Regions from separate parts of the Homo sapiens genome. Here region 1 is linked to region 2. Evidence: fine-mapped expression QTL. A gene starts in region 2. The other region holds a variant in brackets. All regions are shown on one strand. Distances are from middle to middle.

Region 1 (4,000 bases), 51 kb before region 2:
CCCGAGTACCTGGGACTACGAGCGTGTGCCACCATGCCCAGCTAATTTTTGTATTTTTAGTAGAGATGGGGTTTCACTATGTTGGCCAGGCTGGTCTCAAACTCCTGGCCTCAAGTAATCCACCCGCCTCGGCCTCCCAAGTGCTGGGATTACAGGCATGACCACTGTGCCTGGCCAGACTGAATGATTTTTAAAACACAAATAATAACTTGCAAAAAGGGGGTGGTGTGCCAAATCATTACTACTCTCTGGTGGTTATTGCTTCTGGTTTCCACATGGGTATTAATCAGTTATCACCTACTGAAGAATTAGGACTTCCACACAGAGGGTTGGCTCTCCACCAAGTCTAACTCATCCCAGTCTATACATTCTTGGTTATCAAGACCCTAAATGACCCCTGACTCAAGGCCCAGAGCTGTTATGTTCAGATCCTGCTCAGGAGGGGACAAATGGTCTGGAAGAGGGTACAGAGCAACTTCCTAGGGTCAATCAGGTCATCCAGCGTGAGCCCTGAAGTTCCTGCCCCCAGAGGTAGACGCATTAAATAAAGTCTTATCCACAAGCAACATTATTGCTTATACATTATAATAATAAGATTCTGAGAAGGAAATCATGAGGGAGTGGCTATTATATAACAGCTAGAGCAGAGCACAGAGAAAGCAGCAAAGACATTTAGTCCTCTTCCTTATTTTACTGATAAGAAATTCAGGATAAGGGTTTTCAGTTTTAAATAGGCTTGAAGATGAGGATTTAAGGCAAGAGAATCACCTGATGCCAGCAGTTTGAGACCAGCCTGGGCAACATAGCAAGACCCCCATCTCTACAAAAAATAATATGAAATTAGCTGGGCATGGTGGTGTGTACCTGTAGTCCCAGCTACTCAGGACAGTGAGGCCAGAGGATCACTTGTACCCAGCAAGCCATGCTCATACCACTGCACCCCAGCCTGGGCAACAGAGACCCTCTCTTTAAAAAATGATGATTTTAAAAATAATAATAATAACCACAATACTATTATGTTATCTAAAATGTTTATTACTTGATATTAATGTAATATTACTTAATATTAATGTAATATTAATAAAATTTCCCTTACTAGCATCAAATATCTAATTATTCTTCCAATTTCATTAGTGTGTTCAGAGCCAAACAGGATCCTTTTATTAAGGGTTGATATGTCTCTTAGGCTTCTTTATAATCTATATTCTTTTTTATGAGATTTATTTGTTGGGGGAAAAACAATTTTTTTTTTCTGCAGAGTTCTAACATTATGAATTTTGCTGACAGCATCCAAGAAGAGTCCTTTAACATGTTTCTCAGTTGAATGTATGTTCTATAAACTGGCTTGATCAGATTTCTGTCTAAATTTTTGGAAAGACTATTTCATAGGTGGTTAGTCTATACCTCATTAAATCACGAGAAGAGGCACAATAGTTAACTCTTTTTAAAAATATCTTAACTTTAAATAATGGATTCAGGGCCAGGCACGGTGGCTCATGCCTGTAACACAGCACTACGGGAGGCCAAGGCGGGTGGATCACCTGAGGTCAGGTGTTCAAGACCAGCCTGGCCAACATGGTGAAACCCTGTCTCCACTAAAAATACAAAAATTAGCTGGGCGTGGTGGCAGGCACCTGTACTCCCAGCTACTCGGGAGGTCGAGGCACAAGATCGCTTGAACCCAGGAGGTGGAGGTTGCAGTGAGTTGAGATCATGCCACTGCACTCCAGCCTGGGCAACAGAGTGAGATTCGGTCTCCAATTA[C/A]ATTAAATTAAATTAAATTAAATTAAATTAAATTAAATTAAATTGAATTGAATTAAATTTTAAAAAAAGGATTCAGGTGTTTAATTAGTCACTTTAAGACATCCCATTACAAAGTTTCTCACCAGCTCTTTACCTAACAGTATTATCAATTAGTGGTAATCTTTGCTTATTCAGAGAGAGGATGCAAAATGATAATGTTATCACTTTTTATTAGTTTTTTTTTCTGTAAATAACTTTTTCTCTATCATTTAGTTACACTGAGTTACAGCTTATTCAAAAAACTAGGATAAATGCTTGATTCTTTTATTATTATTTTTTTAATTATGAGTTAGTTCCCTGCCATTTTCCAAAAGTAACTACTGGATTTTGCTATTTAGTATCATTTTAATTTTTGTTTATTTATTTACTAAGATGGAGTTTTGCTCTTTTCGCACAGGCTGGAGTGCAATGGTGTGATCTTGGCTCACTGCAACCTCCGCTTCAAGGGTTCAAGCGATTCTCCTGCCTCAGCCTCCCGAGGAGCTGAGATTACAGGCACCTGCCACCACGCCGAGCTACATTTTTTTTTTTTTTTTTTGAGACAGTGTCTCGCTGTTGTCGGCCCGGGCTGGAGTGCAATGATCTTGGCTCACTGCAACTTCTGCCTCCCAGGTTCCAGCAATTCTCCTGTCTCAGGCTCCTGAGTAGCTGAGATTACAGGCGCCCACCACCACACCCAGCTAATTTTTGTATTTTTAGTAGAGACAGGGTTTTGCCATGTTGGCCAGGCTGGTCTCAAACTCCTGACCTCAGGTGATCCACCCACCTCGGCCTCCCAAAGTGCTGGGATTACAGGCGTGAGCCCCTCTGCCCGGCCTAAAATATAATTTTATATATATATATATATATATATATATATATATAGTAATACATATTATATATATTATATTTTTATATATTATGCATAATTATATATATTATATTACTATTAATATTTGTATTTATAAAACATGTTAGTTTCCCTTTTCTATTAAATTTAGGATTACAGTGTTTTAAACTGTTTGATTTTGTTTGTATCTCTTTTCTCTATTTGTTTCTTAACAAGTACAATAATAATACCAATACCATTACTAAACATGTTTGCTGAGAACACTTTAAGATTTGTCTTTTTTATTTTTATTTTTTTAGATGGAGTCTCATTCTGCTGCCAGGCTGGAATGCAGTGGCATCATCACAGCTCACTGCAGCCTCAGCCTCCTGGGCTCAAGCAATCCTCCTGCCTCAGAATCCCAAGTAGCGGGACTATATGCCCAGCTACTTTTTAAAATTTTTTATATAGACAAGATATTGCTATGCTTCGCAGGCTGATGTCAAACTCCTGGACACAAGCAATCCTCCCACCTCAGCCTCCCAAAGTGCTGGGATAACAAGCTTAAACCACTGTATCCAGCTTTCTTTCTTTTTCATCCTTAAGATGTATCTTGGCCAGGCACAGTGGCTCATGCCTGTAATCCTAGCACTTTGGGAGGCCGAGGCGGGCGGACTGCCTGAGCTCAGAGTTCGAGACTAGCCTGGGCAACACGGTGAAACCCTGTCTCTACTAAAACACAAAAGAAATTAGCTGCACATGGTGACGTGCGCCTAGTCTCAGCTACTCGGGAGGCTGAAGCAGAATTGCTTGAATCCAGGAGACAGAAGTTGCGTGAGCTGAGATTGCACCACTGCACCTCAGCCTGGGCAACAGAGCAAGACTCAGTCACAAAAAAAAAAAAAAGAAAAAAAAATGTCACTTGGAAAAAAAAAAGGGTCACTTGAAATACAGTTCTCACTTTGAAAAATAGTGCAGGACCATAGAAACGACTATGAAAGCCGAAACTGTGCCAAACAACCTTAATCATCAACAGGAAAAATTACGATTGTCCACAGCATTTACAAATTTCTGTCAAAATGCTAATAATTCTGTCACTTACACATTTATAAAGAAATGAAAAAAGTAATATTTAGTAGGCTATGATTTAAAACACTAGATACATTGGCAAAGCATTTCTTTTTTCTTTTTCTTTTTTTTTGAGATGGAGTCTCGCTCTGTCACCCAGGCTGGAGTGCAGTGGCGCCATCTCAGCTCACTGCAAGCTCCACCTCCCGGGTTCACACCATTCTCCTGCCTCAGCCTCCCGAGTAGCTGGGACTATAGGCACCCACCATCACGCCTGGCTAATTTTTTGTATTTTTAGTAGAGACGGGGTTTCACCGTGTT
Region 2 (4,530 bases):
AGAAAGCAATGTTTACAATGGCCTGGACTTTTGTCATAAATTTTCAATCTCTAAATGATCTTTGTATTCTAATTTAACACACTGTGATTCTTCAAAATTATAGTTTTGCAAAGTTGAAGAGTTAAGCAAATGCCAAAGCCACAAATTCAATTGTTACAGTGAATAAGGCAGATTAATATTTAACAGTTCATTTTCTTGCAGGTGAAAAGCAAAGAATTCACAGCAACATACCTGCAAGTCTCACATCTCCAGCCTCAACATCCTTGTAAGTTATATTTGAAAAAAGAAAAGTCTCCAATATCTAAACTCATTTTCCCCAAAAGTCCCACTCTTCAATCTCTATTTGTCTCAAAGTGACCAAATCTATCCCAAATTATTTCCTTGGTTCTTTCTCTCCATAAAAATGGCTTAATTCCAGTGAGTTTCTCTAGTTTTACGTACTACTTATGTATTTTGTTGCTTTCTCTCATCTCCCCTTGGATCATTTTCCTTTAGTTCTCACCACTGCTTTTCTCCATATTTATCTTCAAATATTCAAGTACAATACTTCCCAACATCCACAAGAGACAACACCTTGAAATTAAAGCAAGCAAACCATCCAGAATTTTCCATTCTCCTGTGAATCTACTTCCGGAATATCCACTCAAGTAATCCTTCCCACTAAAGATGAAAGGCGAGCTAAGGAAATACATTAGACAGAGGAAGTAAACACTGAAACAGGGCCATGCCTAGGTATTCTTCGGCCCCAAAGAAAAAAAACTAGACTCTGGGTCCAAAGGTCTTTTTCGTGACTTTTATCCCCACCCAGAGGCCAACACCACGCAGGTCTGAGAGAGGTAACCCACGGCCACCTACCTTCTACACACACCGCACGACCTTGCTCTGAAATAATCTTGCACAAGCAAAATTCTCCACGCCTCTCAGACTCCTACCTAACGTTTCTGTGCTTCAGTTTCTGAGCTCTTCTCACTTTGCAACTGTCCCAGGGAACACTGGGTCTTCGCCTTAATTTACAAGTTTGCACTGAAGGTTTTAAATCAGTCTGATTTCCCCGTGGTGAGTCACACCCCGCAACGTGCACCAAGGGGGAGGGTGTTTAAAATTATCTCCGGCTCCACCCTTAAAACAAATCACTTGGCTGCAAGGCCTTTCCCCCTAACAGAGACTGGTTCAAGGGAGATTCGGACACATCTCCACCTCCAAAGCCAAGTGCCTTCCCGGGATGATCTGCATAACAATTTGCGGGTGCTGGTGGTGGAGAAGCTCCGGGAAGAGAAAACTAGCCGGACGGTATCGAACCGCCCGCAGGCCCGTCGCAGCTCCATTAATGCAACTACCATTACACTAAGGTAACGTGTGATTCACACTCTCCACCTTCTCTCCCCTCTCATTCGCTGGCTCCGGCGCTCGCACCGTCGGAGGGTGGGGTTGCGACGGCCACAGAGGATGGGACACCCGAGGGAAAAAAGCATTATCAAGAGAAATTAACCAGTCCCATACTAAAGACGCCTCTCCCTCTGTCCCTGAAGTTAAGTCTCAGAAGGTGGCTCCAACTCCTCCCCGGAGGCTACGGACCACCGACACACGCCTCCCTCCTGCTCTCAGCGAGACGCGGCGGGAAGCCCTCATCTCTCTCCACGACAGGCACAGGGAAGGGTCCCGGGGTGCAGGAGAGAAGAACCCCACTTTTCCCCGCCCCCTCCCCCCGAGAAACTTCTGGGACTCATTACGCAACTCAAGTAGCAGGTCCCAACAACGGGACAGCTCTCCGCAAAACGCGGGGTGCACAGGCAAACGTCTGACTTGGGGGCTGCGCGTGAGGGAGGAGCATGGGTCTCTTCCCATGTCCCCGTCCCCTGTTTTTCTACGCGCTACCTGCCGCGGGATCGCAAGTAGGGCGGTGAGAGCTCTGAGCCCTAGCCCGTTCTCCCCGAGGGCTCCCACCGGAAAAGTGGGAACGCCAGCGACTTGAGTCAGCGTGCTGGGAAGCCGGCAGAGAGGCGGGGAGAGCCTCGGCTTCCGAGAAGTCCGCGGCGGCGGCGTCGGGGGCCGGGCGGATCGACCCCCAGCCCTGGGTGGCGCAGGGCTGCGCTCACCTTCCAGACCCTTCCGTCCTCTAGTCCCGGGTCGGGCGCCCTCGTCACCTCCGCCCTCCCCTGACCTGTTGCGGTGGGAAAGGGCGCAAGTGCGGACGACGCAGGGGAGCGCCTCCTCCCGGGGCTCGGCTGCGGAACCGCGGAGGCAAAGGTGCAGCTGCGGCCGCAACGCGCGCAGGCGGCGGCCGAGTGCGCAGGGGCCGCGCGCGCCCGTCGCTCGCTAGCTGGCTGGCAAGCTCAGCACGCCGGCTGCCCGGGACGCCCCGAGGCCACGCCCTCCGCGCGAGGCCCCGCCCCCACCCCCACCTCCCGAGCTGCGGTACCGGGTTCCGCCCCGGCCCGCGCCCTCTAGCTGGCGCCACCCAAGCGGCAAGGGACGTCGCGGCCCTCCCGGGATTGGTGGGAGGATCGTGGGGGAGCGGCAGCTCAGGACGGAATACGGCAATGACCGCCCCGGTCGCGAGGGTGACCCTGCCCCGGGCTGCTGTGGGGGCGCAAGAACCCTTTCACTTTACGGCGAGATTAAGCTCAGGGTCAAGTTCTGAGCAAAAAGTGTCAAGGAGCCTTTTTGCAACCTCCTATAATATTGAAACAGATTCTGTGCCCTTTAAAGGAGATAATAACTAACATCTGGGGAGCGCTTTACAATTTAGAAAAGGCCTTTCACACACAGGCCTGTTTCATCTTCACAACAATCTTATAAAACAGATATATTGTTCCCATTTCCCAAATAATGAAACGGAAGCGCCGAAAAGTAAGTATTGTGCTCAATGTCACAGGCTACTAAGTGGCATGGGAAACCAGGTCTCCTGAATCTAGCCTCCGGGTTTCTGCTCTCCACCAGCCCAACCTCAGAAAATTCTAATAGGTGCAGGGGGCTTTGGCAAATAGACCCATGGGAAGAAGGGGAAACTTATGTCTAGTTAAGTCGCTGCCCGATTCCTGCTGTAAACATACCAAGGAAAGCAACAGGCTGTCTTCATTGTGTTGTCGCACCTTCCTTCCTGAAAGGGACGCAGAAAGATTACATCAAATGGCCCAGATGAGATTTCGCCGACAGTATTTTATGGTTTAAAATGGGTGAAATTATTTGGATGAAGAAAAGCGCCTTACTTAAATTTAATATGATGTGTAATGTAAATTGGTATAATGTGTGAAAATAAGCCCCTCCCTGCCTTCTCTGCCTTTTCTCTTTTTAATTTTGTTTGTCTCTACTGCTCTGCTCAACTCTTTTATTGTCCACATAATTGAAAACCTAATTGATGGATATTTGCATTTCCAAATTAAACCTTTGGCTACTTGACTTAATTTCCCATGGATTGTTTTCCAAAATATAACTCTTCGCCCTACTCCATATCCTCCCATCGGGAGATTGGTTTACCTAGACAGCTAAAATAATTAAGGTGTCCCTGATGAAACCTGGTGGTGTATCTATCTAAGATGAAAGTTCTGGTCATCCCTGAGCAGGATGGGACAGGAGTCATCTCTTACAAAGTGTTTGTACACCTTTTAAAGGTTTCTAACAGAGACTGATCTCTATTCTAATCAATAACAAGTATTTTAACGTTTTTGCTATATAATGAATACATTTCATTGTGAAATATATATTAGCATGGTAATATTTTATAATCTGAAAACTTTTACCACTTCTATCTAAAATGTTTTCCTTTTTTGTGTTCTTTTTGTGTCATCCCATAGTATCTCCTATAGGGCTCTTCAAACTGTGGTCAACTTAGTAAATGATGTTGACAGTGGAAGTGTGATCATTTTATTTTCCTGCCTTTGGAATTGAAGATTGTAATTTTGCAAAAATTTTGTTGAAGATGATGTAGCTTTGGTTCAGAGAGTAAGTCATTCCATTTATATCAATATTCTTAAGGCAATGTGCTAGGTGACGAGCCATATTGATGACAAAGACAGAGCTCCTATTTTCATGACATTCCAGTGTGGTGGCAGAAACAAGCAAGTAAATAATTCCAGTACACACTTCTGTTGATTTATTTCGTGAATGGTGACTGGCTATTTAAAAAGACTAAATCAAATTAATTTTCTGATAATGAATAAAAAAGGATAGCCATGCCAGTGAGTTATTATTATTTTTTAAGTTGCCTTTCTCTCTCTTCTGCTGGTCATCTTATATAAATAGTCAATAAGAAGGCTATTTTAAAAAGTGATTACACTATATCTACTTTAAAAAATTTTTTATATCTACTTTTTAAATTTCAGACATAAACAAAAGGAGAGTAATTATGTAATGGAGTTGCAGATATTTAACTTTGTTAGCTACACTTTCCTCCATCATCTTCCTTACAAGAATTCTTAAATTACATTTTTAGCACACTCAATGAAATTCCAGCACTTTCTTAATTTTGACAACCTAATCTCATACATTTCAGATTATGTTTCTAATAAGATGAAGCATGTTTCTGACATC

What was found. PIP is the estimated chance that this variant, and not a neighbour inherited with it, causes the effect. A credible set is the group of variants that fine-mapping cannot tell apart.
Region 1: its variant is the best candidate, but not a certain one, in a credible set for the expression of AFF1 in subcutaneous fat (TwinsUK, PIP 0.60).

What each region holds. Positions count from the first base shown.
Region 1 is chr4:86,983,849-86,987,848 of GRCh38, reverse strand. The region is part of intron 2 of AFF1 (ALF transcription elongation factor 1); the gene reads right to left. Among named protein-coding and RNA genes, the nearest start is that of AFF1, 51 kb to the right of the region's middle. The variant C/A (reference allele first, on the strand shown) is at 1,765.
Region 2 is chr4:86,932,807-86,937,336 of GRCh38, reverse strand. AFF1 (ALF transcription elongation factor 1) reads right to left here and starts at 2,326. Exons shown (of 21, transcript NM_001166693.3): 1 at 2,097-2,326. It overlaps AFF1-AS1 (AFF1 antisense RNA 1), which reads left to right and starts at 2,487. Exons shown (of 3, transcript NR_038841.1): 1 at 2,487-2,850; 2 at 3,795-3,942. It also overlaps a transcript of C4orf36 not described here. RefSeq lists enhancers at 892-1,011, 867-1,408, 1,409-1,950 and silencers at 1,263-1,401, 1,872-2,621.